Linked DNA regions of Homo sapiens: region 2 is linked to region 1. The links come from fine-mapping of genetic effects on gene expression. A gene starts in region 1. The other region holds a variant in brackets. All regions are shown on one strand. Distances are from middle to middle. Region 1 holds the start of ZNF252P-AS1 (ZNF252P antisense RNA 1). Region 2 has its middle 7.9 kb from the start of C8orf33.

Region 1 (2,909 bases):
GAGGTTGGGCTGGCTGGGTATATACTGAAAACTGTCAGTACACAGATGACATCTAAAACCACAAATCTGGTTTTATTTTAGCAGTGATATGTGTCACTCCCACAAAAGCCTTCCCAATTGGCCTCAGCATACACAACAAGTCACCTCCCCACAGCCCTCTACACATAAACAAATTCCTTAGTTTAGTTCAGGAGGAAATGCGCCCTTTTCCTTCCGCTCTAGGTGACCGCAAGGCCCAGTTCTCGTCACCAAGATGTTAAGGGAAGTTTGCCAAGAGGCATCTGAAAGGAAATAAGGGGAATGGAGTGACCACAAAGGAAAGCCAAGAGAACGTTGGAGACACGTTCTAGAGCCCTGGCATTTCACAACAAACTCTGGAACAAACCCTGTCTCATCATCATTTAAGCCTTCGTTGGACAGACTTTCTGACTGGCAGCTGAACATAAGCTCATTGATGTCTTCACAGTCTCCAGCTGAGGCACACCTTGGCCAGAGGGAATCTTCCAGTCCTCAGACAGGGCTTGCCTTTGACTGGCCCCTGCTGCTTATGCCCTTTGTGAATCACAAGCGGTACCTCTTAGTGTACTCTGCCTTCACTCCTAAACGCATGTGGCAGGCATGTAATGCTGCTATTAGGCGCATGGGCTCTGGACTCGAATAGGACTGAGTTCTAACCTTGGATCCACCACTTACTCATGCAGAGGTCTCAGGTAAGTGACTTGAGTTTTTCCACAGACCATAAAATGAGATTGACACTACTCCTTAAGTGACTATATTGCGTTAAATGAGAATATGTATAAAATGCTCAGCACAGTATTAGCAAACCGCAAACAATACTAAGTCTCAATTGTCCTAATCAGTAAGTCAGCATTTACCGAGTGCCTACTAAATGAATGAGTGTTGAGCTTGTTCCAGCGCATCTGTGAGATATCACCTCCTGCCTATTCCTTTCCTTCCCCAAAACAGAAGCTCCTTCACACCACAGCTCTCACAGCTTTACCCTTTCAATCAATACATTCCTGCTAAATGAAATGCACTTTTCTCTCTTCTGAAAAAAAAAAAGCACAATTCAGCTCATCCCCTGACATTGCCCAAACTCCCTTCCTCTGCGAGATCTTTTTACCCATCTGGCTTCCCTGCCTCAGTGTTGCTCGGGAGCGTGGATGACAGCCCGTAGACCTGCACGCCCCGCTGCCTCCGCTCGTGCCTCACGCCACCCTCGCCCTGCCCGCGCCTCGGCCAACACAAAGCGGGCGCTCAGCACCCCGCAGCCGCCCTCGACGCGTCCTCTACGGGTCACTGAGGCCGCGGGGCCCGACCTGCGGCCTCTCAGAACCACGGCACCGCCCCTGCCCGCCCCAGCGCCACTCCGGCACCTCCGCACCAGGCGCCCTAGCTCGGGACTCACTCGGCTCGACCACGGGAAGGGAAGGAGCGCGAACGCTAAATCCCGTGCCGCGGGGAGCCAAGCCCCCTGGGCCGGAAATGCCTAATCTGAACTTCCGCCCTGCCCTTCAGCTCACCAACCAATTGAATTCCAGGTTTCGTGGGTCCGCTCTAGGCGGCTGATAGTACTCAATGCTCCGGCAGTCCTGCTCCTTCCCGGTTACGTCCCTTCCAGCCCTTGGCGGAGTCTGCGGGCGAGAGGGCGCAGGTGCAGAGGTGCCGCCGGCGGCGTGCGGCTGCGAAGGAAGGGACCCCGACACCGAGCGTTCCTGCGGACGCTCCTCAACCGGGGGTTGTTCTCCGTGCTCTGGACCCGGCCCTTCCTCACCTAGGACGTCTCGCGGTGCACTGTCCCCCTCTCTCGGGCGACTTTTCCCCCACCTCCAAGTAGTGATCAAGCTCAGAATCCAGCTCGCGCCCGCTGTGCACCTAGCACTTCCCACCTGTAGTCTTTTGACCTCATCGCCCCCTCTAGAAGGCTGCTGCCATCGCTTAAATGAGGAAGCCGAGGTGCAGAGAGGTTTCAGACCTATTGCGGTGGAGCTGGAGTTCGAGAACCAACCACTCGGTGCTGAGACGCGCTTGCGGAACGGGCGGCGGGCGGGGGTGAAGCGGAGTGAGGGGAGAGGCCAGGTGCGACCCGGGCAGGTGAGGAGCACGGGCCCGGAGGGAGGACTTACGAGAATGGAAAGGAAAGCAGCCCGTCTTCAGTGGGACAGTGGGAGCATTAAGATGTCAGAGAATGAGCAGTTGTGGGAAGAGCCATAGGGTATTTTATTTTTTAGAGATGGGGTTTTGCTCTGTCGCCCAGGCTGCAACCTCGACCTCCCGGGCTCAAGCGATCCTCCTGCCTCAGCCTCCCGAGTAACTGGGACTACAAGCAACGCGCCACCACACTAAATCTTTAATTTTTTGGGGGGTGGTTGAAGGTGGGGGCGGGACAGGGTCTCTCTCCGTCTCCCAGGCCAGAGTGCAGTGGCGCAATTACGGCCCGACTCCTGGGCTCAAGCGATCCTCCCACCTCAGCCTCCGGAGTAGCTGGGACCACAGGCGCCCACCACCACGCCCAGCTAGTTTTTGTATTTTTTTGTAGAGGTGGTGTTTTGCCATGTTTCCCAGGCTGGTCTTGAACTCCTGAGCGCAAGTGATCCACCCGTCTCAGCCTTCCAAAGTGCTGGGATTACAGGTGTCAGCCACCACGCCCGGCCCTAAATATTTTTTTAAAAGTTGGATTTTTCATGGTGCCCAAGGGAAGAGACACTCCTTTCCTTTTACTAAGACCATTTCTTTTAGAAAACTTTGTAATAGGAAAATCTTTCTTTGCCCTCTTGAAATGTATGTAAATTTTTTAAAAAGCTGCATAAGCCTCTTGCCAGTTTTATAAACCAGGAATTTCTTTCTTAAGGACCTTTCTTAAGGACCTTGGAGTGATTTCTTTGAAATAAAAAGGCCAAGGAAGATAG
Region 2 (2,909 bases), 42 kb after region 1:
GCAACAAAATTAGCCAAGTATATTGGCACATGCCTGTAGTCCCAGCTACTCAGGAGGCTGAGGCAGGAGGATCACTTGAGCCTGGGAGGTGGAGATTGCAGTGAGTCATGATCGTGCCACTGCTCTCCAGCCTGGGCAACAGAGTGGGACTCTGTCTCAAACAACAAACAAAAAACTCCACTTTGCTATCATTCATTTCACTACAATCACCAAATACATTGCTATTATTAATTCAAACAAACTGTTATCCATTAGATAATTGAGAATAAGAAAACTAAAATATTTTATTTACCTTTATTGATTTTGCCTCTAATGCTCTTCCTTTCTTTATGTAGATACTAGTTTCTGATTTATCATTTCCCCCTCTCTGAAGAAGTTATTTTAATAGTTCTTGCAAGGTTAGATCTACGGGCAATAAATTCCCTCAATTTTTGTCTGAGAGAGTTTTTATTTCTCCTTCATTTTTGAAAGATAATGCCACTTTATACAGAATCGGGGCTGGTGTTACTTTTAACATTTTTTGGAAGATAAAACTGATATAATGCTTACCCTTGCTTAGTTTTTTTCTTTCTTGCCTTTTTTTTTGAATGGAGTTTTTCTCTTGTTGGCCAGGCTGGAGTGCAATGGTGCAGTCTCGGGTCACTGCAACCTCTGCCTCCCAGGCTCAAGCAATTCTCCTGCCTCAGGCCTCCCAAGTAGCTGGGAATACAGGCATGCATCACGACACCCGGCTAATTTTTGTATTTTTAGTAGAGACGGGTTTTCACCATGTTGGTCAGGCTGGTCTGGAACTCCTGACCTCAGGTGATCCACCCGCCTTGGCATCCCAAAGCACTGGGATTGCGGGCATGAGCAACCGTGTCTGGCCCTCCGGCTTCTTTGAAGATTTTTTTTGTTCTTCATTTTCTGCAGTTTGAATATGGTATGTTTGTGTATAGAATTTTGGTATTTATCTTGCTGGTGTTGTCTGTACTTTCTGGAACTGTGGTTTGGTGCATGTTATTAATTTTGCAAAATTTTATTACAATTGGCTCAAATATTTCTTCTGTTCCTTTCCTTCATTCTTCTTCTGGTATTCCCAATATGCATATGTTACACCTTTTGCAGTTGTCCCACAGTTCTTGGATGTTCTGTTTCATCCTTTTTATTCTTTTTTTCTCTTAGCATTTCTATTTTGAAAGTTTCTACTGACATGTCTTCAGGATCATTGATTCTTTCTTCAGTTGTGTCCAGTCCTTTTGTTGTTGTTGTTTTGAGATGGAGTCTTGTTCTGTTGCCCAGGCTGGCTCACTGTAACCTCTGCCTCCTGGGTTCAAATGATTCTCCTACCTCAGACTCCCGAGTAGCTGGGACTACAGGTGTGTG[C/G]CACCATGCCCGGCTAATTTTTGAATTTTTAGTAGAGATGGTGTTTCACCATTTTGGCCAGACTGGTCTCAAACTCCTGACCTCAAGTGATCCACCCACCTTGGTTTCCCAAAGTGCTGGGATTACAGGTGGCAGTCTTTATTTCTGTCATGATGTTTTTGATTTCTAGCATTTTCTTTTGATTCTTTCTTAGTGTTTCCATTTCTCTGCTTATATTACCTATCTGTTCTTGCATATTGTTCTCACTTTCCATTAAAACCCTTTGCATATTAATCATAGTCTTAAAAATTCAAGGTCTGATATTTCCAACATCTCTGCCATAAGCTCAGTTTGGTTCTTATGCTTGCTTTTTCTTTTCAAATTCTATATTTTTTGTGTGTCTAGAACGTGTGGTAACATTTTATTGAAAGTGAGATACGATGCACTGGTTAAAAGGAACTGATAGTTAGGCCTTTAGTGTGAGGTTTTTATCTGGCCCGCGGTTAGGCTGCGTTTTCTGTTTGCTGCAGCTGTCAGTATCAGAGGCTAAAATGTCTCCAGCGTCCTTGTTTTGGTCTCCCTTGTTGCCTTTGGGTTATCCTAGAGACTTCTTGAAGTTTGAGACACACAGTTCTTTCAGTTATATTCTCCCCTAACTATTCAGGATCTCTAGTGCTGGGGTAAGATATGAAGGGAGGGGAAACATCACATAATCTTATGAGTATGTCTCAGTCTTTCAGTGAAATTGTGACCCTCACAAGTGCTTCTGAGTTTTGTATTGGTTTATCCCCCTTAGATGAGACAGAAAGGCTAGAGCAGGTTGGAGTTGGGTATTTCCCTTTCCCCAGGTCAGTTTGTCTCTGGTAAAACCTCAGCAGGTTAGGCTCTGGTAAAATAGTTTCTCCTGAGGTTGGGCTTTATGAAGAACCATACGCTCTGGGCATATTTCAGAATGGCTAATTTCCCCCTCCCACTGCTGGAAGCATGAAGGGATTTTTTTTCTTAGATCTTCACTGTGAGAACCTGTTATGGCTTCAGGAGGTAAAGCTCATGAAAGTGTGTGGGTTCCGTTAAAACTGGGCCATACTGGCATTTTTACTGTCAGTGTGCGTGAGCACTCAGCAGGCACTAGGCTCAGTGACGGGGTCAGTTCTGTGCCTTAGCTTCCTCCTGTGTGTTCTTTCCCTAAGCAGTCCCATGGGGCTGAGACACAGCATCCATAACCCTGATGAAGTGTCATCATTGACCATCTACAAACACTGGGCCCTGAATGGAGCTTAGTTAAACTGCCTTCATCTACTACCTAGCTGTACCAGGGACCACTATTTAAGAGACATGAAAAGAAATCCAGAATCCCCAAGTGTCTGTATTGCCTGGGGGTGATCATGGACTGTTATTGACCTCTTGGTGTTTGGAAGGCTGCTTTTAGATACTCCTGAATCTGTTTGCCACATAACTACATGTATTACATATTTCATTTGATTACTTTCTTAGTTATGGTTTTCTTTTCTTCTTTTTGGAGATGGAGTTTTGCTCTTGTTGCCCAGGCTGGAGTACAATGGTGC

The links.
Region 2: its variant is fine-mapped to the expression of ZNF252P-AS1 in whole blood (TOPMed, PIP above 0.99).

Annotation. Positions count from the first base shown.
Region 1 is chr8:145,001,409-145,004,317 of GRCh38, forward strand. It overlaps ZNF252P-AS1 (ZNF252P antisense RNA 1), which reads left to right and starts at 1,403. Exons shown (of 1, transcript NR_026974.1): 1 at 1,403-2,909. It also overlaps the pseudogene ZNF252P. RefSeq lists enhancers at 1,796-2,372, 2,116-2,245.
Region 2 is chr8:145,043,153-145,046,061 of GRCh38, forward strand. No RefSeq gene overlaps it. Among named protein-coding and RNA genes, the nearest start is that of C8orf33, 7.9 kb to the right of the region's middle. The variant C/G (reference allele first, on the strand shown) is at 1,366.